Linked DNA regions of Homo sapiens: region 2 is linked to region 1. The links come from fine-mapping of genetic effects on gene expression. A gene starts in region 1. The other region holds a variant in brackets. All regions are shown on one strand. Distances are from middle to middle. Region 1 holds the start of PLEKHH2 (pleckstrin homology, MyTH4 and FERM domain containing H2). Region 2 overlaps PLEKHH2 (pleckstrin homology, MyTH4 and FERM domain containing H2).

What was found.
Region 2: its variant is fine-mapped to the expression of PLEKHH2 in pancreas (GTEx, PIP above 0.99).

The regions. Positions count from the first base shown.
Region 1 is chr2:43,633,351-43,642,817 of GRCh38, reverse strand. PLEKHH2 (pleckstrin homology, MyTH4 and FERM domain containing H2) reads right to left here and starts at 5,558. Exons shown (of 30, transcript NM_172069.4): 1 at 5,439-5,558. RefSeq lists a silencer at 5,325-5,654.
Region 2 is chr2:43,703,874-43,713,340 of GRCh38, reverse strand. It overlaps PLEKHH2 (pleckstrin homology, MyTH4 and FERM domain containing H2), which reads right to left. Exons shown (of 30, transcript NM_172069.4): 9 at 9,285-9,360; 10 at 6,925-7,019; 11 at 5,796-5,940; 12 at 3,215-3,351; 13 at 3,011-3,121; 14 at 2,766-2,852; 15 at 958-1,116. Among named protein-coding and RNA genes, the nearest start is that of C1GALT1C1L, 32 kb to the right of the region's middle. The variant A/G (reference allele first, on the strand shown) is at 4,755.

The DNA of each region.
Region 1 (9,467 bases):
CACAGTTTTAAAAATAACATGAAGAGTGGATATTTTTCAACAAATTGAAATCAATCAATGTAATGCACCATGTGAAAAGAATAAAGAACAAAAACCGTATGATCATTTCAATAGACACAGAAAAATCATTCAACAAAATCCAACACCCCTTCATGATAAAAATATTCAAGAAACTACAAATAGACAGGAACTTCCTCATCCTGATAGAGGACGTTTACTAAAGCCCACAGCTAACATCATACTTACTGATAAATGACTGACAGTTTTCTCCCTGAAATCAGGAACAAGACAAAGATGTCTTTTCTCACCACTTCTATTCAACACTGTAATAGAGATAATAGCCAGGGCAAGACAATAAAATAAAAAACCATCTAGATTGGACAGGAAGAAATAAAACTATCTCTACTTACAGATGACATGATCATGTGCATAGAAAATTCTAAGGAATCCACAAAAAAATACTAAACTATAGAGTTTAGCAAGGTTTCAGGAAATCAGATCAACATACAAAAGTCAGTTGTTTTTCTATACACTAGCAAGGAAAAATCCAAAAATGAAAATAAGAAAATATTCCATTTACAATAGCATCAAAACTAATAAAATATTTAGGAATGAATTTAACAAAAGAAGTGCAAAATGTGTGCACTGAAAACTACAAAACATCACTGAAAGAAATTTAAAAATACCTAAATAAATGGAAGAAATTGTATATTCATGGATTAGAAGACTTAATATTGTGAAGATGGCAATACTTGCAAATGGCTATATACACACAATGCAATCTCTATCAAAGTTGCAACTGCATTTTTTGCAGAAATTGACAAGCTGATCAAACTTTGCCTGGAAATTCAAGGGCTGAAGAATAGACAAAATAAAATTGAAAAGTTGGAGGACTCACATGTTACTATTTCTAAACTTACTACAAAGCTATACAGTAGCTTGATTACACAGTGTGGTACTTGCATAAAGATAGATATATAGATAAACAGAATAAAGTTAAGTCCAGAATTAAAGCCTCACATTGATTTTTGGCAAGAGTGATAAGATCATCCAATGGGGGAAAGAATAGTCTTTTCAACAGATGATGCTGGGACAACTGGATATCCATATGTAAAAGAATGAATGTGGACCCATACCTCATACCATATATACACAGTAACACAAAATGGATCACAAACTTACAGGTACCAGCCAAAGCTCTAAACCAGGGGTGTCCAATCTTTTGACTTCCTTGGGCCACGTTAGAAGAAGAATTGTCTTGAGCCACACATAAAATACACTAACACTAAAGGTAGCTGATGAGCTAAAAAAAAAAATTGCAAAACAAATCTCATAATGCTTTAAGAAAGTTTACAAATTTGTTTTGGGCCACATTCAAAGCCATCCTGGGCTGCCTGTGGCCTGCAGGCCACAGGTTGGACACGCTTGCTCTAAACTCTTAGAAGAAAAGAGGTATAAATCTTCATGACCTTGGATTAGGCAACAGATTCTTAGATATGACACCTAAAGCACAAGGAATCGAAGAAAAAATAGATAAATTGGACTTCATAAAAATTTTTAAATTTTTGTCCTTCAAAGGACACTATCAAGAAAGTGCAAAGATAACCCACAGAATGGGAAAAATAGTTGCAAATCATGTATCTCAGGGATTTGTGTCTAGAATATATAAAGGACTCTTAGGACTCAACGATAAAAAAAGATAACCCAATTAAACAATGGGCAAAGGCCTGGACGTGGTGGCTCATGCTTATAATCCCAGCACTCTGGGAGGCCGAGGCGGTTAGACTGCCTGAGCTCATGAGTTTGAGACCAGCCTGGGCAAGGTGGCAAAACCCTGTCTTTATTAAAAAAAAAAAAAAAAAAAAAATTAGCCAGGCATGGTGGTGCAGGCCTGTAGTCCCAGCTACTTGGGGGTTGAGGCAGGAAGATCACTTGAGCCCAGGAGGTCGAAGCTGCAGTGAACCATGTTCACACCACTGCACTCCAGCCTGGGCGACAGAGGGAGACCCCGATCTTTAAAAACAATAATAATAATAAATTAAAAATAAATAAATAAAAATGGGCAAAGTATCTGAATAGAGATTTATCCAAAGAAGATATACAAATGGCCAATAAGCACATTATTTGCTATGAGAGAAAATGCAAATCAAAGTCACAACAACATTCCACTTCACATCAAATAGGATGTTCTAATGAAAAAGACATCTAACAACAAGTGTTGGTGAGGATGTAGAGAAATGGGAACCCTCATACATTGTTGGTGGGAATGTAAAAATGGTACAGCTGCTTTGTAAACAGTTTTACAGTTCCTGAAAAGTTTAAACAGGCCAGCATGGTGGCTCACGCCTGTAATCCCAACAGTTTGAGAGGCTGAGGTTGGAGAATTCATCTCTGAGGTCAGGAGTTCAAGACCAGACTGTGCAACATAGCAAGACCTCATCTCTATCAAAAAATTTAAAAATCAGCTAAGCGTCGGGGAGCTTACCTGTGGTCCCAGCTACTCGGGAGCCCTGTGTGGGAGGATCACTTGAGCAGTGAGCTATGATCATACACTGCACTCCAGCCTGGGTGACAAGAGTGAGACACCGTCTCAAAAAAAAAAAAAAGTTTAAATATAAAGTTACCAAGTTATTGGAGTAACTTTATATTTGGTATATCAATATAAAGTATTGGTAACTTTATACTTGGCATTGGAGTTGCTGGGTCATATGCCAAGGGATGGGGTCATATGCCAAGGGATGAAATACACATCCACACCAAAACTTGTAAATAAATGTTCAGAGCAACATTATTCATGATAGCCAAAGAGTAGAAACAGCCTGTGTCCACCATCAGATGAATGAATAAAATGTAGTAGATCTGGCTGGGTGCAGTGGCTCACTCCTGTAATCCCAGCACTTTGTAGGGCAAAAGCAGGTGGATCATCTGAGGTCAGGAGTTCAAGACAAGCCTGGCCAACATGGCAAAACCCCGTCTCTACTAAAAATACAAAAATTAGCCAGGCATGGTGGTGCAGGCCTATAATTCCAGCTACTAGGGAGGCTGAGACAGGAGAATTGCTTTAACCCAGGAGGCAGAAGTTGCAGTGAGCTGAGATCCTGCCATTGCACTCCAGCCTGGGTGACAGAGTGAGACTCTGTCTCAAAAAAAAAAAAAAAAAAAAAAAAGTGGTACATCCATACAATGGAATATTATTCGGCCATAAAAAAGGAATACAGTACTAATACACGCTATAGTCATGGAAGAGCCTTGAAAACATTATGCTAAGTGAAAGATGCCAGACACAAAAGGCCACATATTGTATGAGTCCATTTACATGAAATGTCCATAAGAGGCAAATCCAAAGGACAGAAAGTAGGTTAGTGGTTGCCAAGGGCTGTGAGGAGAAGGTAGCAGATACTGACTACAATGGATAGGGGGTTTCTTTTTGGGGTGATGAAAATATTCTAGAATTAGATATTGGTGATGGCTATACAACCTTGTGAATATACCAAAACCCAGTGAACTGTATACTTTAAAAGGAAAAATCTTATAGTTTGTGACTTATATTAAGATCTCAATAAAAAAGATCACATATTTACAAATGACTAAAGAAAAAGTCGCAGTTTAAATGGATGTATACTAGGACTGCATTTACAAATTTAATCAACCATTATTTGTGGTTATCCCTGCCAAGAATTTCACAATTAGCTCAAAAAATTGAGAGGTAACTGTTAACCCCAAATATGAAAAGTATCATACATATATCTTACCTAGCGCACTTTGCTATGATGACATAATAAATTAATTCAAAGTCAAACATACCTATTTCTTTAGTTATGCTAATTATATATTTTATAGTGAAGTAGCAAAGCCTTAAGAATATTATTAAATTGGCATTTAACATCTACATTCCCTATTAATGGGTCATAATAAATCAGAACTGCAAATTGGTTGGATAATGGTCTGCACTGAGATCCAGACACCTGATTCCCTCATTTCATTCTGTAATTTCAGTTAGTTAACAAGTACAAAGCAACTGTTGTATTAGTGCACCATCTTGGGTAGTTAAAAATTCTAATTTTAAACAATATCCGCCATCCTTTTCATTACCACTAATGTTATAGAACTATATAACATTGGGAATATATATATAACTATATAACATAGCCGACTGCTAAATAAAGAAAATACCACATATAGATTCTGAATTTGAAAGGAATCTATCATGTCTAGATTCTGCATTTGAAAATAATCTATCTTCACTTCAGGGGACAGGAAAAAGTCTTGGAGTTCCAAATACCCCCAGTGATTTTTGGAAGTATTTACTGACATAAGATAAACTGTTTACAATTGTGGAGTGAATGCTCTTTTCTCTGAATCTCTGACTTCCTGTTTCTCTTCCAAATCCCAAAAAGGAAAGAAAAAGAAATGAAAGAATTATTCTACTTAGGCTTACCCTGATGAAGCGCAGCGTTAGTCTCTATGATATTCTTTAGTTTTTGCCTCTTAAGGGACAGCTTAACTGGGCTGGGTAATCGTGTGTGTGAGTGTGTGTGTGTGTGTGTGTGTGTGTGTGTGTGTGTGTGTTAAAAGATCTTTCTCGACGAGACTGAGGCATGCCTTGTTTAAGGAACCTTCTGACCACCACCTAGCCACCTAGCCCCACTTGGGCAACGCCTGCCCTTCGGTGACCCTGCCCAGAACAGCCGAGCTCCTCACTACATACTCCTCTGGGACACACCGCTGTGCGGGCCAGGCTTCCAAGACTGGCATTTTCACAAAGAAAGCAGTGACCCTCAGGTAGCCCACCACCAGAGCTTTTCCAATGTAAGTGGTTCGACTTCTATTTCCACAGCGTTACGCACAACAATATCGACGGGTAAAAAGTGTTGTCCTTTAAAAAGTGCCCCACTAACTTCGGGGACAGTGGTTTCCGGGTAGGTCACCTTAGGGTGCTTTGACGTGCCAGCAACTCGAGGTGTACAAAATGCTTCTTTAAAGTTTTGAGTTTAAAGTTTCGCCCCGGAGATCCTGGTGGATCTCCCGAAGCCTAAGGCGAGCGCGGCATCCCTGACCGCGCGGGTCCCTCGGCTCGGGGACCCTGGGCTGCCCCGCTGCGCCCCCGGGACCGCTCGCGCCGCGCCAGAAGCCCGGGCCCAGTGTTTCCAAACAGAACGTCACGGGAGCCCACGGGCGCGAGGGACCGCCGGCCACCGCCCCCTGCCCACCTCTCCCGGCGACATCCAGACTTGGGGGCCGACTCTGGGCTGTGGCGGGAGGTGCAGCGGCGGATCCCGAGTCAGCCCGCTCCGTCCCTCTCGTCCCCGCCTTCCCGCTCCTCCCGGCGCCCCAAACCTCGGCCCCGCGAGCCCCCCTGGACGGGGCGCCCTCAAGGGGGCGGGGATCCCAGGGTGGCAGGAACTCTGGAGTGGCCCCTCGTCCCCGGGCTTTCTCACCTGTCTATCTCAGCAGCGGGTCCCCGGCCGCAGCGCCCGATGTCCCGGCCGCGACTGGCCCCCGGGATCCCCGGACTCTCAGCCCGCGCCCGCCTCAAGCCGAGCTCGGAGAGGGCGGGGAAGGGCACCGCCTCCTCCAGGGACTGGCAGCCGGTGTAGCCAATGGGAGACCACAGCCGACCACCGGGCGTCACCGGGGGTGTGGCTATAACTTTGGCTCCTCCCAGTCCCTGCCCCAGGAGGGAGCTCTGTCCTGGAGTGGTACCCCTAACGTCCCAACTGCGAGACTCCAGAGCTTGCTGCAGCGGCCGGTCACCTTCATTCCACTCCGTCTGCCTGGACTGTTGCAGCACCCTCCCTTGGTCTCCCAGTCTGAAGTCTCTCCTCTTGCCAATCCACCCTTCATCTTCCTGCCAGGTTAATTTCCTTAAGAGCAGTTTTGATGAACAGTGTGCCAAAGACTTTCATTGGCTTCCGTTTGCTTAAATTATCAAGAACAGATTCCCTAGTCTAGTGTTCAAGGTCTCCATCCCGTCTTTTCAGGTTTATTTCTCACAGCTGCCCTTCACACACCTGAGACTACTGCTGTGCACCTCGCCACCCGAAGGAAGTGGCACTAGGAGCGTTTACATGCTATTTCCTGTCTCCACTTCAAAAAGCTCAGAATAATCTTCTCACCGGGCGCAGTGGCTCACGCCTGTAATCCCAGTACTTTGGGGGACCGAGGCAGGTGGATCACTTGAGGCCAGGAGTTCGAGACGAGCCTGGGCAACATGGTGAAACCCTGTCTCTACCAAAAAAAAAAAAAAAATATATATATATATATATATATATACACACAAAAAAAAAAAATTAGCTGGGCTTGGTGGCGCTCACTTGTAGTCCCAGCTACTCAGGAGGCTAAGGCTGGAGGATTGCTTAAACACAGGAGATGGAGGCTGCAGTGAGCCGCGATCATGCCACTGCACTGGATCCTGGGCGACTGGGCGAGATCCTGTCTCAAATCATCATCATTATCATCATCATCATCATCATCATCTTCTCCATGTAACTATGTCTGTCGCTCCACCTGGCAGAAATGTCGTCTCTGGGCCGGGCGCAGTGGCTCATGCCTGTAATTCCAGCACTTTGGGAGGCCGAGGAGGGCAGATCACGAGGTCAAGAGATCGAGACCATCCTGGCCAACATGGTGAAACCTGGTCTGTACTAAAAATACAAAAATTAGCTGGGCGTGGTGGTGCACGACTGTAGTCCCAGCTACTCGGGAGGCTGAGGCAGGAGAATCGCTTGAACCTGGGAAGCGGAGGTTGCAGTGAGCCAAGATAGCACCACTGCACTCTAGCCTGCCTACAGAGCAAGACTCCATCTGAGACAAAAAAAAAAAAAAAGGTCTTCTCTGGTTTCTGCTCCCTGAACATCTAGATTTTTGCCTCTCTTGGGGCTTAGCTCCCTCTGCCTTATGCACAGCTCCTCACATCTCTTTTAGACTGTGAGCACTTTGAAAACAAGGATTTGTGGTTTTTTTTTTTTTTTTGCATTCTCCTCAGCACAGAGCATATTGCATAAGTAAATTAGTGATAATTTAAATCCAGGTGAATTTTACATCCCAACTTAGGGTCTGGAGAGGTCAATCTCAGGGTAAAATAAAGAGAATTCTGAATGTTATGGATAATCGTTCCCCAGGTCACAAAGCTAGGTCAGACAGATTATTCTCTTTGGTTCACAGTTGGCCAATAGAGAGTATCAGAAAAACTTTTTCTACTACAATCTTTTTTTTTTTAACTTTATCTCATCTTATATAAAACACACACACACACACACACACACACACACACACACACACACACACACAGAGGATGGGCACAGTGGCTCATGCCTGTAATCCCAGCATTTTGGGAGACCAAGGCGGGCAGATGACTTGAGGTCAGGAGTTTGAGACCATCCTGGCCAACATATCGAAACCCCATCTCTACTAAAAATACAAAAATTAGCTGAACATGGTGGCATACGCCTGTAATCCCAGCTATTCAGGAGGCTGAGACAGGAGAATCGCTTGAGCCAGGAAGGCAGCAGTTGCAGTGAGCTGAGATCGCACCACTGCACTCCAGATTGGGTGACAGAGCAAGACTCTGTCTCAAAAAAAAGGAAAGAAAAAACCACAAAAGAGATAAAGATTTTCAAAGTTTCTCAGAGGAAAAGCAATAAGTGAATACAACTAAAAGTCCAGTAAGCAAGTATCAGGCTTTCATATTTCTTCCAGATGAGCATTAATTTTGAACAGGATCCCAGACTACCCCCACACATCAAATTCCTTTTGCCTTCTGTGGGAGCTGATGATGCATATCATATGAAAAATTGTCTTCAAACAGCTTTGGCAAACAAGCAGACTGGACTGGGCTTATTTTATAGAGCACGCAGGAGTTAAACAAACAGAGTTTCAGTAACTTGCATAATTTAACACAGCAAGTCAGTAGAGACCAAGCAGGAGAAAGAGAGAAAGAATGCCAAAATAGAATCACTTCCGTTTGTGAGTCAGAAATACTAATTAGACTAAAAGAACTGAGTGAATAAAGTCACTCATGAAAAGCCGCTTTGTAAACACGGCTGCCACCCTTGTAAGGCTTAGCCAATATTTACTTACTGTCACCTTTTTCTAGAAACATGACAAACTGAATTTGTCTGGGTATGGAGAATACAGCGGAACAGCATCCTATCTTTGTCTATGCTGAGAAAAACACATGGTACAATGGAATATTATTCAGTGGTAAAAAGAAATAAAGTACTGATACATGCTACAACATTGATAAACCTTGAAAACATTATACTTAATGAAAGAAGCCAGTCATTTAAAAGGCACATACTGTAGGATCCCATTTACATGAAATGTTCAGAACAGGCAAATCCATAGAGACATAAGTGGATTGGTGGTTGCTTAGGGCTGGGAAGGATCGGGGTGATGGCTAAGACAAGTGAGGTTTATTTTTGCGATAATAAAAACATTTATGGTGATGATTACACAACTTTGAACATACAAAAAGCCATGGACATACGCAATTTAAATGGATAAACTGGATGTTATTGAATTATATCTCAATAAAGATGTTTTAAAAAAGAAAAACATGTTGAATTTTGTGTTTTTACGTTAGGTAGCAGGGATAGAAAATGTTAGTAGCAATAGGCACCTTTGTTTTATAAGCATTAATCTAAATTGTGATATTATGTTTATTTGTGATTATTTTGTCTGTTTTCCCCCCCACAAGACTGTAAGTGCCAGAAAAGTAGAACAACTGTTTTTGCTCTTTAATGTATATCCAGTATCTAGCAAAAATCATAAGTCAAACCACCGTAAATCAGGAACTGTTTATACATCTCAACTTCTTTCAAGAAATTGAACCTACAAGGTCTAACAGCTGATTAGAAGGCGGATTAGAAGGGAGGCTTTGTGTCTGCATTATCAGGAAATGATGGTGCCATTTACAAAAGTAAGGAAGCAAGGAGAGGGAACAAGAAGAATGAGATCTGGCTTGGAGGTACTGAGCACAACTTGAGGTGCGAGTGAAATATCCAGGAGAGAGCCAAGAGAAAATCAGTCAGGCTGAGCTGGGGAGAAGGTTTGAATTTGGGTGTACATTTCAACGTATACTTCTGCATAGGGGGAGATTACTGTAAATTGTAGAATGATTGCTGGCCATGTGGCCATTTGGCACATTGGGAGCAAGGACAGAGGGGTTGAAGGGAAAAGAGGTACGGAGCTGGGTAAATATCAGGGAATAAGTATCTGATCCTTTAATCCACCACACATAAAATCCAAAAAGAAAGAAGGAGGGCGGAGACACTATCTCCACTAGAATAAGCTTGTGGCTTCTGGCACGGAGAAAGTATAAACCCCAGCACCTGGGAAAAGATATCAAAGACAAGGGGAAGATTTGGAAAAATGAATAGAGCTAGCAGGAACAGCTCTCTCTAGCTGAGGAGGGTACAGGTCTGGGCACTCCAGGCTGTTTACCTGCAACCTAGGAGACCAGAAAA
Region 2 (9,467 bases), 71 kb before region 1:
CTGCATCTTGATAGAGTCAAAAGTAAATAGCTTTCAAAACTAGTCAAACTCTACACTTAAGATCTGTGCATTTCAGATATATTAATCATACCTCATTTTTTAAAATAGGAAAAAAAACATGCTGTGAGGAACATCTCATAATTAAATCTTTTGCAAATTAAGACCACTTCCTAAGGATAAATTTTTAAAACTGAGATTGCTGGATCAAAGGAGATATATATGCGTGTGTGTGTGTGTGTGTTGATTTGATATTGATTTGTTCACTCAAAATTATTGGCTAAGTTAACACTTCAGCCAAGATATTGCCAAACTGCCTTTTAGAGTAATGCTCTCACTAGCAGATTTCTTTTTTTTTCTACTGCCTATGTAATTGCAGAAACTAGCAGATTTTTTAATCTGTGTCAATACTAGGTTTCAAAATTTGTAAAAACGTCTTACTTTTCACCAGATTTTAAAAAGTGCCACCTCTTATTTCAATCTGTGCTTTTAAAAAAATTGAGTGACAGTAAAATGTTTTTCCATATGCTTATTGATCATTTGTATTCCTTCTAACCTCGATGATCTCTCTTTCCTGCCCATTGAGTCTTTTGTTCCTTTTCCCCCAATTGGTGTTCATTGTTTGCTTACTGATTAGAAAAAAACGTGTTAAATATTAATGATATTAACCAGTTTTCACATGTTTCAAATACCTCTTCAAAGTTTTTCAATCCTTCTTTTAAAAATTCTGCTCGTAGAATTTTTAATAGAGCCTTTACATTTTTACATATTATAGTCAAATTTGTCTTCTTTTCATCTTTATAGTTTTTGCCTTGGGCATCATACTTAAAAACACCCTTTCCTATCCCCAAGATCATATCAATATTCAATATATGTATATGCTCTGACATCCCATTTTCAGCGATCATGGGCTCATGCCCATAGCTGCCTGGGACATTGCTATGCACAGGAGGTTCCTACCTTAGTGAGCAATCCCTTCATGGTGGGTTTGCCCTCAGGCTGCAGGGAAAGTGGGTTGGCAGCTTGTACTCGAAGAACATTCTGTAACACTTTAATCCACTCTTCCAATATATTGGGAGAATCTGCAGTCAGATAGTATGTGTGTTTTTCAGTGGTCAACTAGAATGCAACGAGAAAGGTATAGGAAAGAAAACTGTGAAGATTTAGGATTGTTAGCATTTCCTTGTTCATTATTCAAACGTCATTACTTAACACAGAAGCAAACATGCTAAATCTCAAGTCCCAGTTTCTAAATAAATGACTCCATATCAGTTAGAATATTTTAACCACTTTGTGAGAATTACAGCAATTAAATTTTTGTGGAAATAACTTTGTTACTCCAGTTTACCTAATTTTGGGGTTATGATTTTATATCTTGTTTATTTGTCACATTTTCCCTTTCTTGCTTAAATGTGTTACAGGTTCCTACTTTTCTTTTTTTTTTTTTTTTGAGACAGAGTCTCTTTCTGTCGCCCAGGCTGGAGTGCAGTGGCGCCATCTTGGCTCACTGCAAGCTCCGCCTCCTGGGTTCACACCATTCTCCTGCCTCGGCCTCCCGAGCAGCTGGGACTTACAGGCACCTGCCACCATGCCCGGATAATTTTTTTTGAATTTTTAGTAGAGACGGGGTTTCACCGTGTTAGCCAGGATGGTCTCGATCTCCTGACCTCATGATCCGCCTGCCTCAGCCTCCTGAAGTGCTGAGATTACAGGCGTGAGCCACCGCGCCCGGCCAGGTTCCTACTTATTGAAATGAGGAGCAGAATGATTAAAGACTATAATAAAATAGCATAGTTTTAGCAACTAAAGAAGAGGTTTCTTAATACAAATGACAAAATCAACTATAAATAAAATAAGAAGATCTTGCATATAAGAAGATAAATTATTGGAACGAACATGTGATTAGATATTATGAACTCAGAATGTTCCAGTCTCAAATTAGCCACACTGCAAATTTTCCAAATTTCAGAAACTTACAAATGATTCTTAACTGCCATGCCCAAAGACAAAGCTTTCCTTGATTCTCCTTTCTAAATTTTTGAGAGGTTTTCAGGTACAAATCACTGGAAACATTGATAATGTACCTTTCTGGCAAAGTTGTCCTCCACCCTCCAAAGGAGCAATATAAGAAAATAATGGTTATTGAAGACATTTCAGAAATAAAGTGTCTGACTTTAAATTACATATACTAGAATATCTCAACAGCCTGTGTTTTAAATTTAACAGATTTCTGGCAAGACTGGCCTTATGTGTGAGTAAAATGGGCAGCAGCTGCCCCTACAGTGTGACTTGCTTGGCAGCACACTCCCTCTGCTCACCAATATATTTCCCACTTTGGTGTTATGGCATCTGAAGTTCATATAAGAACTGTCATTTTCAGATTCTATATTAAAATACAAACATTCCTGAATTTCACAGTACATTATATAACTAACATCTTATTGAGAATTCATTTACCAGATAACCCTTCCTTAAAATAGCTTCACAGTTGGACAGCTGAAAATACCTAGGAGATTAAATATGAGGAAAGAAGAGTATAAAGGAAGAAAGGTAAAGTGTGGTGGGAGTTACTCAACACACACCTAACTTACATTATAGTTTTAACCAAAAATTCGTGGAGTTTCACATACTTCCAAGGCATCAAACTAACCCCCCAAAGTGAATAAAGAAACACTGAATTATCCTATCTCCTTTCCATTAGGTTGGATAATTGAGAATTGAGTCTGGCATGATACAAAAAAAAAAAAAAAAAAAAAAAAGTTAAGTACCTGAACTGTTTGTTTGTTATCTCCTCTTAAAATACTACAGGATGCACTAAGTTCAATATGGCCCTGGGGTTTTCTAATTACATCACTCTGTATGAAACAGAAAAACAAATGGAAAGTGATTAACTTTAACAGTAATAATAAGGAATGCTTTGTATCATTACTTGCATTATGGGAAGGAAATCAATCAGGCGTCTGATTTATAGTTTGAGGAATTACGTTCTAAACAGAAAACACTTTCCACTCACCGGAGATTTGTAGTAAAGTAATTCACCACCTTTAAGAACAAACCACCGCCGCTTCCAAGACTTGACTTTACCACTCATTTTTAATAAATAACCAGATTTTTCCAGTGGTTCCTAATTTTTAAAAGATAGACAAAAGCATTTTCAGTTTCCTTTTGGAGGCTCAATCTGACTGACTGCTTTTTAAAAATCATATTCAATATTTACATTTTTCCCATTATCACTGGAAGATGAGCAAGTTTTTGGGAGCTTCTGCTCTGGCTGTGAGTACTCCGTGTCTGTGGAGTAAGCATCAGGAGGAATAGCATAATCACTTTCAGAAGCCACAGAGGAGAGAGACACACCTAAGAGAACAAAGAAAGAAATCAAGTCAGTATTTAATACTGGGGAGGGCCAAACACCAGCTCTGAGTGCTCCTACAGAATGCAATTATTCCTAAATCATAAGCCTCCCTAGACTAGATTTATTCTCATTCCTTTGGCCATAAATAACTTTTTTTGAGACAGAGTCTCGCTCTGTCACCAGGCTGGAGTGCACTGGCACAATCTCGGCTCACTGCAACCTCTGCCTCCTGGGTTCAAGCGATTCTCCCGCCTCAGCCTCCCGAGTAGCTGGGGCTACAGGTGTGCGCCACCACGCCCAGCTAATTTTTGTATCTTTAGTAGAGATGGGGTTTCATCATGTTGGCCAGGATGGTCTCGATCTCTTGACCTCGTGATCCGCCTGCCTTGGCCTCCCAACATGAAGAACTTTTAAAGCAGAAAACAGAACTAAGAGGTAGGGACTGTCATGTAAATCTCTAAGGAAGTGAAAGGAACAGGAATAATATTTTGGTATGATTACAATCACACAGCTATTTTACATATATAAAATATATGCAAGAGTCTACTCATGTATATTTTATTAAGAATTAAAAATATGTGTATTTACACATTGACATATAGGCAAACAAATGTTGAACCTTAATTTATCAAGATTTTCACAATCACATTTTAAATTTCTTAACTTCTGTAATCACTTTTAAAGTAACCTCACATTTTAAAAAAACACAATTCAGTAGTATTTTTTCATTCAAGTTCCATAAGCTACTAAGCAGTTTACAGATTTTAAAAATATTTCATAAAAGAGAAACAATAAGATTGAAAGATATAAACAAACTATTTCTTTCACTTGCCAGCAGCTATAACATAAAATTCAATGGAACATTTATACAATGATTCATTTGCCTTTACAGAAAACTACCTGGGAGTTGCAAGCCACATTTCATGAGTCACTACAATTGGAGATTTAGAATATATTAAATAAAATCAAGGACTTAGGTAATTATTTATAAAAGTATCCAGCAATTTTTAAAAATATGTATTAACATTTAAGGGACATATTAGAACAATGCCACTCTTGTGACACTGCTTTTTATTTGACTCAGACAAGTAACAGTTGCTATAATATCTTCATTTTTCATAGAATAAACAAAAATGTAGACCTATAGGGACCTCAGTGATTGTCATGGCTAAGGCCCAAGGAGACTAAGGCCCAGAGATTAAAGGATTTGTCCAAAGTCAAAGAGTTAGGCAGGGGCAATGTTGGAACACAAGTCTCAGGCTCCCAGGACCAGGGCCAGTGTGCCAGGCACTGTCCTAGATGCTAGGGATAGAGCAAACAACAAAAATATTGGCTCTCGTGGAACAAATTCTAGCGGAAGGAGACCACTGACAAACAGGCAGTAGGTGGTATGGAACAATAAAAC[A/G]TAGAGCAGACTAAAGGGAATAAAAAGAGCTGGCAACAGAAGAAAGACAAAGGGCTGCAATTTGAGTGGTGTGGTCAGGGTGGACCTCATTGAGAAAGCAGCGTTTGCTGATGGAGGTGAGGGAGTCAGCTATACGGACATCTAGGGGAAGAATACCAGCTGGAGGAAACAGCAGTGCCAAGGTCCTGAAATGCAAGCATGCCTGGCATGTCTCAGAACAGCAAGAGGGCCAGTGAGACTGGAGCTGAGTACAGAGAAGAAAGGAGATGAGGTCAAGTACGTGACCGAATCCTGGAACACCTTATAGCCGTTGTGAGGAGCCACTGCAGTGTTTCCAGCAAAAGTGTGTCATAACCTGATTCTGGCTGTAGCGGGGCAAGTTGAGAGCAAGAAGACCAGTGGAAGCTCAAAATATGAAACCAAGGAAGGCTGAGCAGCTCCAGTTGAAGCCGAGGGGATTGGAAGTATCCAGAGGTTCCATGGAACACAGTTTGAAAGCCAACAGACACACCATGCTGCATTAAGGGCTTTTTATAACATACAGATGTCATTTGGTGGAATTAGATCTCTCTGTAACCACTACCTACACACAGAATGTCTTCAAAATCCACTAAAAATCATAGACATATTCCAAGTAAATGTTGTTCTCCACTTTAACATCAGATTAATTGACAAATTTTAAGGTATATTTTCTGCCAGTTAGCAGTGTAACAACTTTAGCTGAAATAAGTCTATTTCACAAATGCCAAGAAAGAAACCTCATTTTGGCCAATTATCTCACTTCATTCCAACAATAAAGTGATCTCCCTCTCACAGACAATAAAAAGCTGAAAAAAAAAAACTATATAATTTGTCTGAAATCACAGAGAATTAAGAAGAGAATTAGGAATATAAACATATCAGTCATAGGCTAAAGTTCTTTTCACTAGGGTCTGAAGCAAGTTCTTGGATTTAAAAAATAATCCTGTAATGGAGATAAAATTCCCAATTAATATTCAGAATGATCTGGAGTTGCCTCATATGCCTGCGATTTTCCCTCACCTCGTTTCATGGCTCTGGGGCTGCCTGGCCCACTCCTACTGCGTGAGTCTGACTCTGACGTCCGGGAGCTGGATCTGGAGCTGTCTTCTTCCTCTGACCCAGATGAGTCATCCAGGAAAGGGCTGCTACTTATTTGGGTCGCCTTCTAAAGAAAAGTGGAACAACCTCCCTGTATCCATCCCTAATGTTACCACTCATCCAAGAAAAGGCTGCTAGTTATTAGGGTCGCCTCCTAAAGAAAAGCAGAGCAACCTCCCTGTATCCATCCCTAAGGTTATCACTCTTTTTAGATAACAGAAAGTTTTACAGGAAGAAGTCATAGCATAGAATTTTTTTTTTTTTTTTTTTTGAGGTGGAGTCTTGCTCTTGTCACCCAGGCTGGAGTGCAATGACATGATCTCGGTTCACTGCAACCTCCGCCTCCCAGGTTCAAGCGATTCTCCTGACTCAGCCTCCTGAGTAGCTGGGATTACAGGCACCTGCCACCACGCCCGGCTAATTTTTATATTTTTAGTAGAGACAGGGTTTCGCCATGTTGGCCAGGCTGGTCTCGAACTCCTGACCTCGTGATCCGCCCGCCTCGGCCTCCCAAAGTGCTGGGATTACAGGCGTGAGCCACCGTGCCCAGCCAGCATATGATTTTTAAAAGGAATTTGGGAATGTATTTTGCTGTTATCAAAATCATGTTGTTAAACCCTGAATTCTAATAAGCAATTATAAAAGATGCCTGAAAATATAAGGTTGTCAATACCTGCAATCCTTCTTTTAATTAATACTTCAAGCAAGGAAGGGGTACCCTGGCACTGATACAAAGATCTGCCTAAATTAGGAGTTTTCATTACATTATTAATAATATGTCTCCTTTAAACAATTCATGGCCATGGGGAGGTGGGGGAATCACATGGGACACAGTAAAAACTGACTCAGACCTCTAACATTCTGATAAGTGTCTTCTGCAGACCTTTCCATTCCTTCTTTTTTATGATATGTTAACGTGAACTTGTAAAACTTTCTATAAAGGGAGAGCCTGTGTAAAATGTTAAGAATGGAATCTGGAGCTTGAATTAACAATTTCCTTGATCCATCATGAAGAGAAGCACATGTTTTAACAATAACAATAATGAGTTACCCCCTTCAAAGTTGTATACACTGGGGTGGTCATGTTCTTGTATATCAGAGATGTATAAAGTCCTGATGTAGTATAGGAAAGGGTTGCAGCAGAATCTGAAACAGAAAAACAGGAAACAACATTTTAAAAAACTTCTAATTAGCACATTGGTCTTTTTCTTATGAATACAAATGAGCATAATCTCCATTTAAAAAGCAATTCGATTAATACATGATTACTAACTGTATAGTCTACTTTACAGATTATGGCATTTACAGGTTTATTTATACACTTTTTTACATGGTTCATTATTTCCTCATGTGTGCTAGTTCCCCAACTAGACTGCAAGCTCTTTGAGAGCAAGAACCATAGCTTTTATTTCCTTGAAATCTCCATGCATGCTTTGCTCAGGCTGGGCAGAACTAAGTACAGGCAACTGCTTACCAACCAATTCAGTAAGCAGTACATAGGAAGATATTCTCTGACTATTCATAACCCTATTACCAGCATGGTATCAAAACCACTGTTCTGGTGGGGCATGGTGGTTCCCATCTGTAATCCCAGGACTTTGGGAGGCTGAGGCAGTGGATCGCTTGAGCCCAGGAGTTTGAGACCAACCTGGGCAACATGGCAAAACCCTTTCTCTACTAAAACCAAACATGGTGGCATACACCTGTAATCTCAGTTACTTGGGAGGCTGAGGCACAAGAATTGCTTGAACCTGGGAAGGGGAGGTTGCAGTGAGCCGAGATCATGCCACTGCACTACAGCCTGGGCGACAGAGCAAGACTTGTTCTCAAACAAAAACCAAAACCAAAACCACTGTTCTTAAGCCTTTATCAGGTAAATCTGATGTTGAAATATTGGAATGTAATTTCCTAGCTAAGTGTAGTGGCTCACACCTGTAATCCTAGCACCTTGAGAAGCTGAGGCAGGAGGATTGCTTAAGGCCAGGAGTTTGAGACCAGTCTGGGCAACACAGTGAGACCCCCATCTCCACAAAAAATCTTAAAAAGTATCAAGGCATGGTGGTATGCACCTGTCATCCTAACTAATCAGGAGGCTGAGGCAGGAGGATCGCTTGAGCCCAGGAGTTCAAGGCGGTAGTGAGCTATGATCACACCACTCCACTCCCACCTGGGTGACAGAGTAAGACGCTGCCTCAAAAAAAAAAAAAAAAAAAAAAGGATAAAATTTCCTGAATGGAAAGAACTGCAGATAGCTGAACAGGAACTGAATATCAATAGTTACCCCTAACATATGAATTAGTGGTGGGATAGGGAGGAGGTGGTAGAAAGAACCACAGGAAAATTTCTTGTTATTCCAGACAGTTCTTGTTGTTTGGTTTTATTTTTTGTAATGAGCATGCATTGTTTCCATAAGAATTTTTTGGAAGAAATAAAGAAAGGGGAAATGTGTTTTAAATTCTGGGAAAAAAGGACATAGAAGCCTATATTTTTACCATTTTAAACAGCTGAAATGCCACAGTTTCTCTGATTTAGTCTCTCTCAGGTAAAAAAATATACATCAGAGTTGAGTGTATTTGAGTCCCCACACTAAGATGAATTTCAATTTTAAAATACAAATCAGCAACCCTAGAAATCATTTTTTGAAAGTTTACACAACTCTTTATTCCAATGAATTTAGACATTTAGGAAGTTCTTAGCGAATGAAATAGCAATGCAAATCACTTTTCTAAACTTTTTTTATTGTGGGAAAAAACACAGAACATAAAATTTACCATCTTAATCTTTTTTTTTTTTTTTTTTTTTTTTAAGACAGAATCTTGCTCTGTCACCCAGGCTGGAGTGCAGTGGCACAATCTCAGCTCACTGAAAGCTCCACCTCCTCGGTTCACGCCATCCTCCTGCCTCAACCTCCCGAGTAGCTGGGGCTATGGGCGCCCGCCACCACGCCCGGCTAATTTTTTTTGTATTTTTAGTAGAGATGGGGTTTCAACGTGTTAGCCAGGATGGTCTTGATCTCCTGACTTCGTGATCTGTCTGCCTCAGCCTCCCAAAGTGCTGGGATAACAGGCGCGAGCCACCGTGCCCGGCCCATCTTAATCATTTTTAATTGTACAGTTCAGTAATGTTAAGTGTATTCACACTGTTGTAAAACAGACCTCTAGAACTTTTTCATTTTGCAAATCTGAAATGCTATACCCAGTAAACAATAAATTCGCTTCTCCACGCACACCCTGACCCTGGTAACCGCCATTCTACTTTCTATTCCTATGAATTTGACCCTTTAAACACCTCCTTTAGGTGGAATCATACAGTATTTGTCTTTTTGTGACTGTACCATGTATTTGTATTATACTATCCCTTAGCACAAAGTCCTCAAGGTTCATCCAGGTGGCAGCATGAAAAAGCACTTACTTTTATTAACACTCTCCATATTGAAGGCCTCAGACATTCGAATACCTGATTTGGCTACAGCATAAATTCTGCTTTCCTAGGGTAAAAGAGAGAGTTTGAACAGGGTATTTAAAGCAAAAAAAAAAAAAAAAAAAAAAAAAGACTACTTTCAATACACATGTTTTTCATTTGTTCTTCATTTAA